2 separate regions of the Homo sapiens genome follow, and region 2 is linked to region 1. Evidence: fine-mapped expression QTL. A gene starts in region 1. The other region holds a variant in brackets. All regions are shown on one strand. Distances are from middle to middle. Region 1 holds the start of DNAI3 (dynein axonemal intermediate chain 3). Region 2 holds the start of MIR4423 (microRNA 4423).

Region 1 (9,162 bases):
GGCTCAAACAAGAACATTTCTCCCTTCCAGACATAAAATAGGGTCCTCCACGCCTAGTTTCTGAGCTAACTTTTTAAAAAAATCCATAAAAAGAATGAGTCACTCACCAAAATAACTAGTAAAAATCTACCTCATATCAATTTATCAGATTGTCCTTTTGTAAACCCAATCTGAAACTTATCAAGATGTCCTTAAAGAATCAGAGAAATATTTTCAATTATGACTTCTTGACTCTTTAGATGTTCACTCAATCAATAAAACTAAAACTAATTTTTACATATCTTCAAGTTTCAGGGAAATTCAATTCAACCTCCCCTGGAAAAGCATGGACACATTCACTAGCTACCATGATGATATTTCATTTCTGACCACTCCCATGAAAGAACAGATGGTCAATCAATCATGAATTTGTAACATGAAGAAATTTCTAAACATTTCCAATTTAACTTTTAACTTTCTTGGTATTGTGACTTATGACTCATTCCATCAAATGGACATCCTCTTGGCATGTCTCTAAAGAAAAGATGACAGAAGGCCTTGGTGTCTCAGCCAGATCACAAGGTTATATAATTCTTACTTCCTTAAATCTGACCGTGAAGGATTATAATTTTTTTTAAGGAAAGCAAATTATTTGGAAAAATACAAAGAAGCTTCTGTTAGAGTTTCTTTTAGATTTACTTCCAAGAATAGTAAATCAATTACATAATTAAATATATGTTTTATTAAATACCTATGTCCAGCCGGCCATGGCGGCTCACATCTGTAATCCCAGCACTTTGGGACACCAAGGCTTGGGCCCAGAAGTTCAAGACCAGCCTGGGCAACATAGTGAGATCCCCACTCTAAACAACAATAACAAACCAAAATCTATGTTTGACATTATATCACAGTGTGATATAAAGGATATAAAGGAAATATAAAGTAATGAGACACCATCCCTGCCTTAAAGTCTAGAGGGGGAGACATCTATCTAAACAAGCTATTGCAACACAATGTAATACTTGCTATAATGGAAAAATAGAGGAAAGAGTGTCTAATTCTACCGAGTGCCTGTATGGCTGGACAGAGAAGGTGACATTTGAGTTGGGTCTTGAAAAATAAATAGTCATTTACCAAGTAATGAGGATGAAGAAAGGCATTACAGATGGAGGCAGAGGTAGAAGTGGTGGCACCTGGATGAGCAGACACACAGTTGTAACCCAGCACAGCACAGGGGACCAGTCAGGAGCTGTGTAACCAGAGCTCTGGCTCTCAACCTGAGACCCACACACTCCTGGACCTGCACAGCAGTATGTCAGGGGCTGTGCAAAACCACAGGATGAGCATGTCACAGTTGCCTAAGGTTTCTTTGTGTTTATTCAGTTTTCTGTCAATTTTAGTTAATAGTGGCTTTAGACATTTTTTTAAAAATTGAAACAAACACGAATCCATTGCAAAGCCAAATGCAAAAACTTCATAAATTCTTTATATGAAACAAATATGTCTCAGTTGCAGAAGTCTATTTCATGTTATAAACCTTCTTTCCATCAACCTACTACTCACTCCTGGCCCCTGTGATTTCCTGCTCCTTGGCTGTTAAGGGTCTTCAGTTAAGAAGCACTGGACTAAAATGTGGGTTGGGCTGGGGACAGAGGCAGGAAATGAGGTTAGAAAAATAACTAATTACCTTCCAGATTTATTTCCAGTGTCTTTCAGAACCCTGTTTATACAGGGTTTCATATGCCAGATTGAGCATATTTAAGCAGGGTGACGTCAGGATTCAAACTATGGAAAATTATGTGGCAACTTGGCAAATAAATTAGAGGGAAAGAGATAGAACAAGTCAAAAGACTATTGCTACCGTCTAGGTGAGAGATAAGGCATATCTGAAATAAGGCAGAGGCAGAGGATGGCTAAGAGAAAATGGATTATTTGAGAGACAATTAAGAAAGAAAAATGACAGAACTTAAATGATATGTTGACTGTGGGCAGTAGAAGAGGAGTCAAGGATGACTTTCAGATTTCGTTTTGCAACTGATGGACAATGATACTATTACCTAGGGTAGAAAATAAAGAAGGAAAAAAAGTTTCTGAAAGATAATGAGTTGACTTTGGCTCTGCTAAGTTGTGGTGCTATGGTCATTCATTCATTCACTACATTTAATCTTTATTTAGCATCTATTAAACAACATGAACTGAACTACACAGGTAGTTGGAAATGTCCAGTAGCTAGAGGAAATTCAGGTATGGAATTTAAGAGATATGTTAGGCTGAGAATGTAGAAATGGAAGTCCAGTGTGTTTAGTGGTGATGGCTGAAGCTAAGGGGAATATATGATGCCGACGCCACCAGGAGAGTGCGAAGAGTGACAAAAGAAGACTCAAGACTGAGCCCAGGGGAAAACGAATCTTCCACTTCCTGGGAGTGGACAAGCTGGAAAAAAGTTGTCAGAATGTTTAGATAATACCTCTTTTTTAGTTTTTTTCCTTCATAATTTGTATTGTAAAATTCATTTGAATTTTGTGAACACAAATTCTTCAGAAATTTGAAAGAATCTATATAATCTTTCTGCACATAACGTAAAAATCTTCATTCAGGATCCTTAAAGTCTCATATGTTATAAATGATTAGCCTCTTCTCAATTAAAGATTTTATTTAAATTGGGTGTAAAAATTAATTTAGACCAATTACAGAAGTCAATTACATTGCTTTATTAAATTCTGCCAGTTTACAAATTAGGAAGTTATTATTATTATTATTTTTTAAGACGGACCCTCGCTCTGTCGCCCAGGCTGGAGTGCAGTGGTGCGATCTTGGCTCCCAGGTTCAAGCGATTCTCCTGCCTCAGCCTTCTGAGTCGCTGGGACTTACAGGTGCACGCCACCACGCCTGGCTAATTTTTTTGTATTTTTAGTAGAGACGGGGTTTCACCGTGTTAGCCAGGATAGTCTCGATCTCCTGACCTCGTGATCTGCCTTCCTCAGCCTCCCAAAGTGCTGGGATTACAGGCATGAGCCACCGCAGCAGCCCCCTGAACTCTCATATGTTATAAATGATCAGCCTTTTCTCAATTAAAGATTTTATTTAAATTAGGTGTGAAAATTTATTTACACCAATTACAGCAGTCAATTACATTACTTTATTAAATTCTGCCACTTTACAAATTAGACAGTTATAATTATTTTTTAAGGGAAAGGAGGAGAACAGTGTTCAGAGAGTTGAGCGTCACTGTATGAATCCCACCGGACTCCTAATCACAGATAAAATGAACCTTGGGTTACTCACGGATTCAAGTTTCTTCCCCGGAGACTCATATTTACAGCTTGAGTCAAATTCTAAACAAAAGTTATTCTGGCAAGAAGGAAATGTAACCCATTAGGGTTCTGGGGCGCCCACGACAACCAGTGGGGCGCAGCTTCCTCTCCACTCCCTAGGAGGGCCCAGCTCGCTGCAGGGGGTGGGCAGGAAAGCTGCCCGAAAGGATTCTGAGCGGGCAGCCTCCTTAACATTTTCTCTCCTGGTTCCTAGGGTCCACACCCCAGAAAGATTCTTCTCTGGCTGAGATTGCGGTGGGTGTGAGGCATGGACCGAGCCTGTTAGACCTGGGGTCAGGCCGGGCCACTGTCATTAATATACTTAAGACACAAAACTCTTTCCTTGGTAGTGGAAAGCTGCTGGCCTCACCCGGTTCGCGTTGAGTGACGTCACATAGTGGCAACCAATCACAAGTCTGCTTTGAAAGATACTGTTAGGGAGCGGACACTGTATTGGTAGAGATGCTCTGTCAGTCTCGCAGAGGACTCGCCTCTTTTCTCTTAGCGACAGATGCGTCCTGGCAACAGTCGGCAGAGTTGCTGCGGTTTGTGCCCTTGCGATTTCTTTTTCTGAGAGAGGAGAGTCAAACTCCCACCTCCAGCTCTCGAAGGAGCTTTTCCTGAGGGCACTGCAAAGAGGCTCCTTTTCTTTCAGATCAGCAGTATCAGGTAAGAGAAGCTCTGAATGGGAAAGGCGGCTTGGAAAACAAGTATTTTACTCACTCTTTCAAGGGTATTTGAACACTCGCTGTGTCAGCAATGTGCTAGGCTAGTGGCAGTGAAGACTACAAAAAACACAAGTCTTTCCCTGCTTTCAAAGAGCTTCCAGCCTCGTGAGGGAAACAAAAATAGCAACGAGAGAGCAGTTAACGACACTCTAAGAACTTTAAGGGCATGTACTGTCTTGTTCCCATGTTATATATACCCAGTGACTATCATATTGCCTAGTACATAGTAGGAACTCAATAAACCATGAATGAGTCAGTTAATGAATGAATGAATGAATGAATGAATGAATGAATGCCAAAACAGCATGATTCTGATTATCCGTCTAGGGGCGGGGGTCAAACAATAAAAGATTAATGTGGGCTGAAATAGATTACTTCAGGACTGTTTAGAAAGGGCTAGAGTAGATAAACAGTGAGGAAGATGAACAGGGAACACAAACTCTTTGAAAGTAAGGACATTGTCTTATTCCCCTAGTGACTAGTTTACCCAGTACCTAATTGCTGCGCAATACTTTCTCCTTCTTCTTGTGTATGGTGAATGCTAAATGAATTCACAGCAATCTTTTAGGAAGCTCAGAGTTTGAAGCCCTCTGCCTTTGCAGAGGCCTGACATAAGTAATTACACATAGTATGACTGGAAAGTGTCAGGGAGAACAAGATTGTTTCAGCCTGAGTGAGGAAGTCAGGGAGGCTTTCGGCTTTGGGGGAAAAGTTCATAATTGCCTTGAATGATGAGAAAGATTGAAGCAAGCAGAGAGATGCCTGCATGGTGTGGACCAGGAGCAGCAGGAGGGGTGGGAGGGAAGGGGATTCTCCAGAGAGGGAGGTGGGAAAGTCCTCGACTGTTTGGGAATGAATGGAAACCGTGTGAGGCTGGAATAGAACTGGAAAGGTTGACGCAGTGAGGCACACTGTGAAAGTACTGAAGGCCATACTTATGTGAGTTCAGACTCTATTTTGTTTTGCAAAATCTGGTGTATAGACCACCAGTGCAAGACTGTCTCACAATGCTTTTAAAAATGCGGAGTCCCAGGCTCAACCCAGACCAGCAAAATCAAAGGAGGTCCAGGAAATTTGCATTTCAAATGAGCTCCATTTCTACAATCTGGAAGAGAATGCTACTGTGAATGATAGGGACCCATAAAAAGTCATTATACAGGGAAGAGACTTGATAAGAGATGCATTTTTGGAGAGCTCTGAGGTTGGCCTCTTGAGTAGTTGTTCTGGTTAGAACAGAGGCAGAGAGGCCAGTTAAGTGTCCATGATCTAGGGCAGAGGATTCAGGGAGGAGAATCTGTGGATTTTTTTAATTACATATTTATTTTCACTAACCACCAATTGAAATGTATTCAATTGGTAACAAACCACAGTAGTACTCACAGGCCTGTGACTTTGTTAGTAACTCTTTTCATATTACATTAAAGAGATTGTAAATATATTATTTATACTCATCATTACCTCACAATTAAGGTAGTTATTAGAACCACAGCTAGATTTTGTTATTTAACGTGTTAATAAAGTACAAATTATTTTATCATAATTTAAAAAATATTTTAATAACTATATTTCCATATAATCTGTCTTCTTTGTAATCCCATGTTTTTATTTGATGCATGGGCTTCACCAGGCTGCCAAAGGTTCATGGCACAAAACAGGGTTGGAGCTCCAGTTTTGGAGGACATGTTAAAGACCTGAACCAGAGGAGGCTGTGGGAGAGAAGGGCTTGGAATTCAGAAGATATTTGGAAGGGAGAAGTAATAGGATAGCATCTACTCAAATAAGTGAATATCCAATCTTGGAAAGAAGTGGAAATAGGTATGGAAGGAAGGAAACAAGAGTATAGACTAATAGACATTGTAGGAATAGTTGTCTCTAGGGGTGGATGTTGTATACTTGCCAAAATATGGCTGAAGGACCCAGGAGAATCTTGAAGTTTAATCAGGGTCTTAGTGAAGATTTACTGAGAATCAATAGTTCTTGCAGACGCATTTACCAGAGGCCCAAGATGTTAGTCTTGGGTTTTATTCTAAATCAATGTTTGTTTGTTTGTTTGTTTGTTTGTTTTAAAGATATCCCTGGAGAGGTACCTCACGTCTATAATTCCAGCATTTTGGGAGGCCGAGGCAGGAGGATTGCTTGAGGCCAGGAGTTCTAGACCAGCCTGGGCAACGAAGCCAGACCTCACCTCTTAAAAATAAAATAAAAAGCTGGGTGCAGTGACTCACGCCTGTAATCCCAGCACTTTGGGAGGCCGAGGCAGGCAGATCACCTGAGGTCAGGAGTTCAAGACCAGCCTGGCCAACATGGCAAAACCCCATCTCTACTAAAAAATAAAAAATTAGCTGGGCATGTTGGTGGACACCTGTAATCCCAGCTACTTGGGAGGCTGAGGCAGGAGAATCGCTTGAACCCGGGAGGCGGAGGTTGCAATGAGCTGAGATTACGCCATTGCACTCCAGCCTGGGTGACAGAGCAAGACTCTGTCTCAATTTAAATAAATAAATAAATGTAGAAAGATGGAAACAAGCATTATGAGCTTATAAATTATTTGGGAAGAGGAAAGAGGATGATGACCACCTAGATGAGGTCAGCTAATTGAAGAAGACCTGGGAAGATAAGACTTTCGTAAGGAAGAACCCAGTTAAAGAGAAGGTGCCAGTGCTACAAGTCCTTTCATAATCAAGATCTCTTGGCTGGGAATAAGCCACACATACACACAGGCAACAAATGAGAGCATGTAAACAGGTGTGTGCTATCAACCTAGATAGCAAGCAGAGAGGGGGACTCTCTAAAATAAAATGTTTATTTGAGAATAGGCATTAACAATGGGAAGATGCATGCGGTAGTAAACTATATGTATATTCAGGGAGATAAAAGGACACAAACGTTTTTAAAGGAAAAATGAGGAGGATTATGTCATTGTCTTCAGATAGTTATCCTTGGCTACAGAATCAGTGACAAGGGTGGCACCAGTCTGAGGTTGGACAGGCAGTTCCTGGGCAGATATCCTTGCAGAAGTATTTGTGTGTGTGTGTGTAGAGTGGCAATGGCCTTTATGCAAGTTTGTGATTCTGTATAGTCTTTTGTGATAGTTCTTGTTATCAGGCATTTGTGACATATACTCCCTTCATGGCCTTCCCTAGCTGTGTTTGTCTGAGTTTTTAACACAAGTGGCTCCATGCTGATTCTGACAACTTTCACAATGCATTGCATGAATAAAGTGAAGAGAGGAGATTAATAGCTGTTTAAATCACTGTATTATGACAATTTAATTTATGTTACTTATGCCTTCATCTATAGTAGTTCACCTCCTGAATAATAGAAGCATCATAAAAGGATATAGTCATGGGCAAGTTGGAGAGTTAGTTTGGAAGCAGATCGTAGACAGCTGTGAATGCAGGGTTCCTCGTAATCAAGTGGTGCACCATCACAGGTTTTGATCTGTTATGCAGGGGACTTACCCAATACACACTTTTGTCAACCTCTAATGTCTCTTGTTGTTAACGTAGAATCTAGAAAATGTGACCTTTGTGCATTGATGGCAAAAGGTGTTCTGAAATGGGTAAATTAATTTACAAAGAAAATAAGTAGTTTAAATATCAAGAATATTTTTAATAAAAATGCTTAAACATTTCTAAGTGTTACCTTCCAAAATTTCTATTTTGAAATACACTCAGCTCTAGTGGTTTGAAAACCAGTCAAAACACAAGCCACTGGGTTAGGCACAACATTGATTTTAGGAGTAGACGAATTATCTCTTCTGCTACTCTTTTTTTTTTTTTTTTTTTTTTTTTTGAGATGGAGTCTTGCTCTGTTGCCCAGGCTGGAGTGCAGTGGCATGACCTCGGCTCACTGCAAGCTCCGTCTGCCTCCTGAGTTCACACCATTCTCCTGTCTCAGCCTCCCGAGTAGCTGAGACTACAGGCGCCTGCCACCACGCCTGGATAATTTTTTTGTATTTTTAATAGAGACGGGGGTTTCACTGTGTTAGCCAGGATGGTCTTGATCTCCTGACCTCATGATCTGCCCGCCTCGGCCTCCCAAAGTTTTGGGATTACAGGCGTGAGCCACTGCACCTGGCCTCTTCTGCGACTCTTAATAATTACAAATTGATTTCAGCTGGGAACAGAAAAAATGTTATGCATATTTCAAAGTAAACTTAGACTAAAGTAGGATTGGATATTGAAAATTTTTTCATAAGCTTTTAATATGCAACTTAATAGAAAAAAGTTTGTTAAATATAACACATTTATGAAATATTCAATTAATTTTATGAAAAAAACTTCAGTAAGCCCTGCTATAATTTGAAAGTAATATCTTTGTTGGGGATTTGTTTTTAAAAAGAAAGATCTACATAAAAAATAAACCTTGAATAAATGTGTTTATTGAAATTATAAAAAGTGTATTATTCATTTGGTTTCGATACCCCCAATTAAAAGTTATTTATTTTCTAGACATAATGTTGGTAGGATTTTCATTATTTACAATTACTAAAATAAACTGCAAAATTTTGCCTGAAACTGAAATACAATATAAGGTGGCTACTCCCAAAGTAATCATTTTCCTTTCAGTTTAGACTATATTCACCGGGCTCTCTTCAGCTTATAAATGTTTCTATCGATGGTGCCTAGAAATGTAGATATTATGCTTTTTAGTGAAGAAGAATTAAGACCCCTAAAAGCCTTTAGAACAACCTGGTCACTAGTACCTGGTCACTAGTCACTCTGCCCTTAGTCACTAGTCAGTAATTTAGACAGAAGTCAATTAACATTTGTGAAAGTAGTAAATGAGCTGTTCAGGTAAGGCAGCTTGCATTAATGCACATTCCAATTTTGGTGCCTAATTTATTGCCAAAAATTTGACTTTGTTTTTCCCTGAAAACTGGAAACTCAAATTATCTACAGAGTATTTAATAGCAGCGTTTGAAAAGAACAGGACACTTGTTTACTTTGATTGTTTGGGGGATGATTGTAAACTGATACCTGTATTCAAGTTTAATTCTACGGCAGCACTTCTTAATTCCTGGAACCTGTGGATATGTTACCATATATGGCAAAGAAGTAAAGTCACAGATGAAATTAAGATCAGCGGAACTTAACATAGGGAGATTATCCTGGATTATCTAGGTAGGCCCAGTGTAG
Region 2 (9,162 bases), 71 kb after region 1:
CGGCTCCCAACCCAACTTGGAGTATAGCAGGCAGCACAGCTGAACTGGCGGTATTCTGCACCCCCCACACTGTACCCACCACCCAAGTGTTTCAAACAATGTTAATAATGAGGCTTTAAAAAGATCAATGAATAGAAATATATAAATGTATATACAATGAACATTAAACATATAGATTGCAGTCTGCTGCAAGTCCAAACATCAGCCTAGTTACTGGCAGGCAAAAGGCTGTCTCTGCCCTGGTTGCCTTCCCCAAGGTCTCTGCTGACTTTCCTGCTTCTATTCTATGCCTACACTCGAAGCCCTCCAGGGACCAGGAATTCAGCTCTGCTTCCAGTCCCTCTAGGATCTACATTGATACTCTCATCTGGGTTTTCTAAGTTTGATTGATGATATGAAACTTCCCCCAGATTTAGAAGGAAGAAGGAAGAAATGGGGAAAAAGCAACCCCTGAATATTTCTACTACAAAATTGCACATTTTTGCAGCTCTCTCCTTCCAACCCTACTTTGGAAACCTCCAAGTCACAGAGCCCTAAATGTTAGCACAGTAGCCCCTGAATTGTACCAGCTCCTCTGGTAGTGGGCCTGTGAATACAATTTCCAAATTATATTCACCTAAAAGATTTAAAGTATCACAAAATAGATAATCTACATAATGATTAGGTAGATGATCATTAGATAATGATCAAGTAGATTAGGGAGGTAGATTAGGTAGGTCGTCTACCTAATTACAAGCAGCAGAAATTCTAACAGAGCCTTGTAAAGGTCATGGGGGCTTCCTGCCTGTCACCCTCTCATGGACTTCTGTTTCTAACAGATGGCAAGTGTCAACCACTATTTTGAAAGAGAAGTCAAGCATCTGGAATACGTAGAACAGCGCAAAAAAATTCGTGAGCAAGAAAAGAAAGAAATGGAACTAGAAATGGCAAAGAAAAAAGTTGTAAGTTAAATTTCAGAAATGAAAGATGTTTTCCTCGAACACCAGTGGAAATATATTTGTTTGGCTTAATCCACAGTTTCCATAGAAAAGTTATACTTTTTCACATTCTTCTCTTGTTCTCATGAGAGTCAAGAGGGCATTCCTTTGATTTCCTAGCTCACTGCCAGTTAGACACGTAGTGAGATTCTGTCCAATTTAAGTTTCTGAAATTTTCTATAATTTCAAAGTCCTTTAGTACAGATACCTTAATTCAAAATTTGAATGCTTTCATTATAGAATTTTAATATCTGGTGAATAATGCATTAAAGAAGGTGGTGCAAAAAGAGTTGAATATGGAATCAAGACACGTGGGCTCAAATCCCAACTCTGCCACTGACTAGCTGTGAGATTTGGAGCAAGGCTGTCACCTTTGCTGAGCTTCAGGTCTCTTATCTTGAAAATGGGAATACTAATAACTAGGATTACTGTAAGGCTGTCAGTTAAAGAAAGTGACAAATAGACTTTCAGTAAATAGTGCTATTATAATTATAATGATAGATGATAGATTAGATAGATGATAGATAGATAGATAGATAGATAGATAGATAGATAGATAGATAGATAGATAAATAGATATGAGGGGGTAGAGAGAAAGAGGTGAATTTTACTGTATATGATATGCTGAAGATATGAAACTTGAAATAGAGGAGAATTTGGTACAGGGCACATCCATCTTAAACTCTGCCAAAAAAGAACCTAAGCTCTAAAGCACCCCATGCTCCCTTTCTCAGCTTCTCCCTGTTTGATACGAATTCTGTGACTCTGCTGGTCTTCCCTTGCCCACTGGAATTTTGGGCTTCTAAATACTTTGTGAATTAGGCTTTTCTCTCTTTCTCACTTGAGATCACCTCAGTCTCAATTTCTGTTTCCCTCTTGCTCCCTCTCTCCTTTGCTCTTTTGTTACCAGCATTTCATCATTGATCTCATCTGTAGGTTCCGTATAGCCAAATACATACATCCTCAAACACAGTTACTCACATGAGGCCTTCAGTCTCAAAAGCATTAGCATGTGGCACTGGGCGCCGTGGCTCACACCTGTAATCCCAGCACTTTGAGAGGCTGAGGCAGGCAGATCACGAGGTCAGGAGTTCGAGACCAGCTTGACCCACATGGAGAAACCCTGTCTCTACTAAAAATACAAAATAAGCCGGGCATGGTGGCACATACCTGTAATCCCAGCTACTCGGGAGGCTGAGGCAGGAGAATCACTTGAACCTGGGAGGCGGAGGTTATGGTGAGCCGAGATTGTGCCATTGCACTCCATCCTGGGCAACAAGAGCGAAACTCCATCTCAAAAAAAAAAAAAAAAAAATAAAGCATTAGCATGTGGAAATATTGTAATGTGCTGCATTAGCAAATAAATTAACATTATCACTCATTGATAAATACTAATTAGTGCAATAAAAGCAGAGGATCTCATTTCAAAACATGTTTGGTGACAAAGTGTAAAAGAATGCCAATTAATTAAACTTTCATTGCATTCCACTGCTACAAACAAATTGATCTTAGTTTTGTTCTTTTGCACTTAACAAATGTTGATTTGTTGAGATTCTATTGTGGGAGAGAATCTGCCACCCTTCCCCTTCCCCAGCAATTATCCACGATTATTATGAGTGTTTAAATACCATAGCAACAGCTCCTAATTATCTACATCAGTGGGAGCGAGTAGAATTGTGGATAATCCAAAAATAATTTGCATGTGAAATACTTTTTAAACACCTGAATATTATAATAATAATATCTTAAATTGTATTATACTTTTCAATTTCCAAAACGTTCCCAACTTCTTGTAACTTTATTTCCATTTGATATGGTGCCCTCTTTTAAGTAAAGCCACCACTTCTCAAATTTTCTCTGCAACTATGAATAGATTGTGGGTATGTGAATGAATTTGAAAGGGTTCCTCTGTTACATTGAGAACATAAAAAAAGTCACTAAGGAAAAACAACTAATGTTAGTCAGAAATGTCTCCTTCTAAGCAACGGCTGATAAAGGGGGAAATGGCAACAGTAACAACCTCAGAAGATTGCAATGGAGCTTAAATGAGTTAAAATATTTACAGCACTTAGCCAATAACTGGCACATAGAAAGTGTTCACATGTTCGTCCAGCAAGGCTGGCCTGTGTGAGTGCTCACCAGGTGCCAGGTTGAGGCTGTACAGTTCAACACAGATTTCAGGAAAATCATGCACCTGTCTCTTTGCAAACATAAAATCTGGAAACAGCTCACTCCTCAATGGACAATAATAATCACTGCTCTAGTTGCATATGAAATGGGAATTTTCCTAACCAGAATTTCAGCTGGAGACTCAGCCTGGGACAGTAGTCATTGCCGTGTGATCCACAAGCTATGCCATCCATATGGACTCAGAAGAGGGGGATTTCAAAAGAATTCTGCAACCTCTAGGCTATTAGTCACCCTCCAGTCTACATAAGGGAAACAAGAGTTATAGGGAAGAAGGCCGGAAAAAGGGACTTTTTTTTGAGAGACAGTGGTTGGGGACCATGTTTCCCCCCACTCCCTCCTTTCCCAGCACATCTGACTGCCTCCTGCCCACCTGCCCTCCTGCCTTCCTGCCCTCCATCCAGCCCTTTCCAGAAAACAGCAGCCAGGTCAACTATTCACAAACAGCCCCTTCTCATCCTTTGGTATTTTTAGATATCAGTGTTTTATAGGGATGTCTTGTTTTTCTTCCCCCCCCAGAAAACATATCAGAAGTCAAAAGAACAAATGCAGGCTGAATTAAAAATGGACTATGAGAGTTATCTGGAACTGGAAAAGACTGTTCTTATCAACCTTGGCCTAATCAAAGTCACAGAGAAGGGGTCATACATGGAGGTGATGTAAAAAAGCTTCCTGAAGGGGTGTTTTGGGGACTTCTTCCCTCTATTTATTTTTATGTCAGGTGAACTGGCATGCTGAACATATATATATATAGGCTCATTTATAGACTTTTATTTCCCTGCTATTAAAACTTTTGAATTTTAGCAATGAGATCTATTTCAGTTTTTGTACCATGTATGTACCAAATTTTGTACTGAATATGAAAGTGTTCTTTTTTAATGAATGTTTTCAATAACAAAATTTGTATTTTCCTATAATAATAGAGAACTTTGGATGTCCCTTCCATCCCAATCCTTGCTGTCCACACAGAGGCCCTCATTCCAGGCAGAAGGGGAAATCAAACTGCTCCTACTTATCAGCTTGCTTTTGGCCACCTTTCCAAAAAAAGTGCTTCCCCTTGGCCACTGTACAAACTGTAGGGCCATGTGCTAAACAAAATATTAGCAAATCAAATCCAGAAATATATATATATATATATTTTAAAGAGGTTAACACATGAAGACAAAGTTGGGTTTATCCAAGGAAGATAAGGTTAATTTAAGAGTAGAAAATAAATCAGTGATTAATCAAAAGAGAGAAATTATGATGCCAAGTCGATGCAGAAAAACATTTCATAAAAGTTGACATCAATTCATGATAATAATGATACATTCTTGGCATCTACAGAAAGAATTCCTGTAATGTGATGAAGGGCGTGTAAAACAATACTACACCAAACATGGTACTTCATGGTGACAAGCAGAAAGCTTTCCCCTGAGATGTGGAACAAGACACAGCTCACACCATCAGGTGCCTGACATCATGTACTGCAGTTGCCTTTTTGTTCCCATGCTGTTTAAGCCTAGCATAGGCACCAAAAAGCAACAACAGTATGTGAAACTGAG[A/C]CACAAAAGAGCTTGGAGCCAGATTGTGAAGGCTCCTGTTTACCAAGCTAAGGAGCTGGATTAGAATTTATGGGGAATGAATGGAAGGTCTAAACAGGAAGTTGACCCAATCAGCTTTATTTTTAGGAAACAAGGAATGAACTAGAGCAGGGGAGAGTCTCATGGCAAGAAATCCTATTAGGAGGCAGGAGGAATTGTTCAGGGCAAAGGATTAGGATGCCCTGTACTAAAGCTTAATGTGAAGATAGAAATCAAAGGCTGGTTGGATGGGGAAGGGAAGACAAAGGATAATACCAAGGTTTATAAGTTAGATTGCTAGAGGAAAGAAAACTTTGTCGGATAGATTTTAGCTCTTAACCACCTGTGTGCCCTTGAACAGATGACCCAGCTCTGTGAAACAGATTCCCCTTCCATCAAGTCAGGTTGAGAGAACTTAACTTGCAGCATTTATGTAAGGGGCAAATGAGCCCCTGCAGATAAGGGGCCTGTGCCTGGCACATATTATTGTCATCATGATTGAAATATCCCAGGGCTCATCCTTACACTTGAACTTCTTTTATTCTTTCTTTTTTCTGCACTCACTTTCTAGGTGCATGCATCCACTCTCAAGGCTTTAGATACTACCTCTGTCCCTGACCTGGCCTTCTCTCTAAAATCAAGAGATGTGTATCTATTTGACCTTTTGTATCTCCACTTGGATGTTTAATAGGCATCTCAAACTTAAACATGTCCAAAATTGAGTGCTTGATGTTTCCCTTCAAAAACCATTCCTCCAGCAGTCCTCCCAGCCATGATGCTGCTTGGGGCAAAAGCCTTAAGGTCATCCTTCATCTCCTTTCTTTCACAATCCACATCCAATCTGTCAGCAAGTCCTGTTGACTACACGTTCAGTATGCATGTGAAACCTGATCGCTTCTCTTCTCCCTCACTGCTACCACCATGGTCCAAGCTGCATCATCATCAGCTTGGATTTTGCAGCAGCCTCCTGTTCTCCCTGTTTCTATGTTGTCATTTTCAGTCACTTTCAGCCACAGCCAGATGGTAGTTTTAAATGGATGCTGTCAGATGCTGTCATCCTTCTGCCCAGAATCCTTCCTCAACCTCATAGTATGATCACTCAGAGTATGTTCCCAATGCCTGTCTGTGCCCTGCAAGCCCTTGTACAGGCAGGCCTTCCACTGTCACCTGGTCCCATCCCTCCTTCCTCTCCCCTCCATCACACCCATCCCAGTCATGCTGGCCTCCTGTTCACCAAACATGCCAGGCATCTTCCTCTCCCTGGGCATCTGTGCTTGCTGTTCAGTACTTTCTCCAGAGATTTTTCTAATTTTATTTTCACGAGTTCACTCTAAAAAATGGTTTGTTTGTTTTTAAAGACAGGGCCTCACTCAGTTGCACAGGCTGGAGTGCAGTGATGCAATCATAGCTCACTGCAGCCTCAAGCTGTTGGGCTTAAGCAATCCTCTTGCCTCAGGCTCCTGAGTAGCTAGGACTACAGACACATACCACCACACCTGACTTTAAAAAAATATATTGAATGCCTTCTATGTGCCAGGGTCTACCATTTTAAACAGGATGGTCAGGGAAGGTGACACTTGAACAAGGCCTGAAAGAGGTGAGGGGTTTCACCTGTAGTCTTCTAGAAGTGTGTTCCATAACCCAGTCTCCCTCTCTTCAATGAAAAGAAGCTGGGACTACAGAGAACAGGTGTGTCATAACTGAGTGTCATAAACCATGACTGGAGGCTGAGCACATTGTTGTCTCAAATAAAAGCAGGGTGTTGTTAGCATAAAGGACTGGAGTAATGGATATTGAATAAGTGTCTGCCTTAGGGTTAGCAAATATAAAGCTTAGTATAGTGGCTAGCATACGGCAAGCAGTAAATATGTTTTGCCTGATTTACAAATACAAAATGGTTGTAACATTCTTGCTATAGAAACTAAACATGGGGCTCCTTATGGTTATGATAGCAGTTATTATTAGTTCAGTGTGATTTTTGTCTTTATTCTTTTTCTTTTTTCTTTTTTTTTTTTTTTTTTGAGATAGAGTCTCACTCTGTTGCCCAGGCTGGAGTGCAGTGGCTCGTTGTTGGCTCACTGCAACCTCTACCTCCCAGGTTCAAGTGATTCCCCTGCCTCAGCCTCCTGAGTAGCTGGTATTACAGGCATGTGCCACTATTCCCAGCTAATTTTTGTATTTTTAGCAGAGACAGGGTTTCACATGTTGGCCAGGCAGATCTTGAACTCCTGACCTCAAGTGATCCACCTGCCTCGGCTTCCCAAAGTGCTGGGATTACAGGCATGAGCTACTGCTCCCAGACCTGGTGTGGTGTTTTCATTGTGTGTTTATAACCTCAGTTTTCCTGAGTCTCATCACCTGTGGCCACCGAGAGGACACATAAGCAGCCATAGCCCAGGTTTCATGGGACCTTGGCCCACTTGCTTCTCAGGTATGCTAGCCTTCTGCAGAGTGCCCCCAAGTGTGTCCAGTGGCCACTGGGATGAAGATGGAGTCACATATGTTCAAGCCCACAACCACCAGGCACTCAGGGATCCCTTCTCTCAAAATGCTAGAGCTGCCTAATGGCCTGTAACGTGGGGGAAGGTGCTGGGACAATGCTTCTGGGTTAGTTCAAGTTCAGCGAGAAGCAAACACCAAGGCAGTAGCAGAGGTGCAAGAAGCAAGGCAGAGCCTTCAGAGCTCATGCAGGTCTGGTACCTATGGAAGAAAAGAGGAAAGGACAGAAGATGATACGATTCATCTCAGACCACTCAGCGTGGTTTAATTATTCATGATACCTCTCTTGGACACTAAGACTTTGAAACAGACAAACTCATAGTGATGTCTCTTCCTTCTCTGGGATGAGTTTTCTCTGAGGCTCTTCAACCCCTTAAGCTAAGGTCCTTTTGTTTGGCCCAGAACTTCCATTTGGCAGACAAGGCCAGGCATGCTGAATCCCAGTAAAGAACACAGCTGAGCCTCAAGCGAGGATGCTAACCACCTGTACTGAAGATGTAGGAATATCAGGTGTGAATGCAAATAGAATTAACTGGTATGCCTCCTTCCAATCCCCACAGCTCCAACCCTTTCCCCTACCACCCATTGTGAGTCGATCTGATCTTCTGACCTTAAGTCATTTGGTCTGGTCTACAGTGTAGTGAAAAGACAGGGGTCTTTAGGTCCTGGCAGACCTGAGTCCAAATCCCATCTTCATCACCTTGGGCAAACTGCACTATCCCCTAAGTCTTAGATGCCTTGTCTGTAAATGGGGATAATAATAATACCTAGCCTACCCCATACAAAGACAATGTATATAAAGCACCTGGAATATAGTTGGCGCTTAATGAATGTTGTTGCCTGTTCTTGCTTGGTCACAGGTGTATGTGCACACACAGACACACACACACACACACACCAGAGAAACGTAGTGTTTCCTCTTTGTTCTATGTAGTAATCTCTGATTTTAACTTTTTGTTGCCACTAATAATAACAGGAATGTTTCCCAGACTCAAATGCAACTTAAGCAGTGACTGTCCATGCCTGGTTTAATATTAGCCTTTGATCATCTTAATATGAGACCACAAGTGTTGGACATACTATTTAACATAAAATTTAAATAAATTTGAACAGCTTTCCTTTTTGCAGAACTGATAATGCTACTCAGAAAATTGATCATTCTAATATTTGATTAATTTCAATTAAATTTAATGATCATTCAGCTTTACAAATTGCTTTTTATCCGCCAAGAAACATGTAATTAAACCAGCATATTTTCAGGTCCTCAGATAAGCACATCGTGTGTGTGCACTTCAGATGAAAAGGCAATTAACTCCAGTTGGATGGTGGCCTAGGTGCTCTTCACGGCTTCACTAATCCAGCACTGTAAATAATTAACATCTCCCTGCACCCTTCTACCTTGGAGTGCTGCCCAGGGTCGGCGCTGCTCCACCGGGTTGCTAAGTTGCCATTGCCAGGGCAGATCTGTGCAACTGAGCAAGGTCCTCACAACGGAAATTAAATATCTCAGTGAAGGGCTGATGAACCCCTGTGTGGTCAATTTCCTCCTGCCATGGCTGATCAGCTCTCTGCGGGCACGGGCTCATGTGAAACAGCACACACTGTCAGAGCAGAACCCTGCACACCAGCAAAACCAGCCTTGGGAGCTTATTGGGAAACGATGGATTTTTAAAAGTTGTGTAATTGCTTTTAAATGCTTTCTTGTTAACAAATATGACATAAAAAGCATAGACGGTGAGTATGACAGATAATATAGGTTGTGTTTTTCTACAATGCCAATGCTCCAAACTTAAAAAGACAGAAAATAAGCTTTCCCAAACTCATCTGTATATGTGATATTCTGAGATGTTTTTATTCTTTTTTTTCTTAAGAAAAGGAAGAAAGTTGTAAAATAGAAGATTTCACATTCTTCCCTGTCAACTAGAGATGCATTTTCC

What was found.
Region 2: its variant is fine-mapped to the expression of DNAI3 in nasal epithelium (TOPMed, PIP 0.94).

Annotation. Positions count from the first base shown.
Region 1 is chr1:85,058,525-85,067,686 of GRCh38, forward strand. It overlaps DNAI3 (dynein axonemal intermediate chain 3), which reads left to right and starts at 3,803. Exons shown (of 23, transcript NM_145172.5): 1 at 3,803-3,962. RefSeq lists an enhancer at 3,438-3,938.
Region 2 is chr1:85,129,172-85,138,333 of GRCh38, forward strand. DNAI3 (dynein axonemal intermediate chain 3) reads left to right here. Exons shown (of 23, transcript NM_145172.5): 22 at 819-941; 23 at 3,684-3,967. The coding sequence ends at 3,827. MIR4423 (microRNA 4423) reads left to right here and starts at 4,623; the gene lies at 4,623-4,702. The variant A/C (reference allele first, on the strand shown) is at 4,709.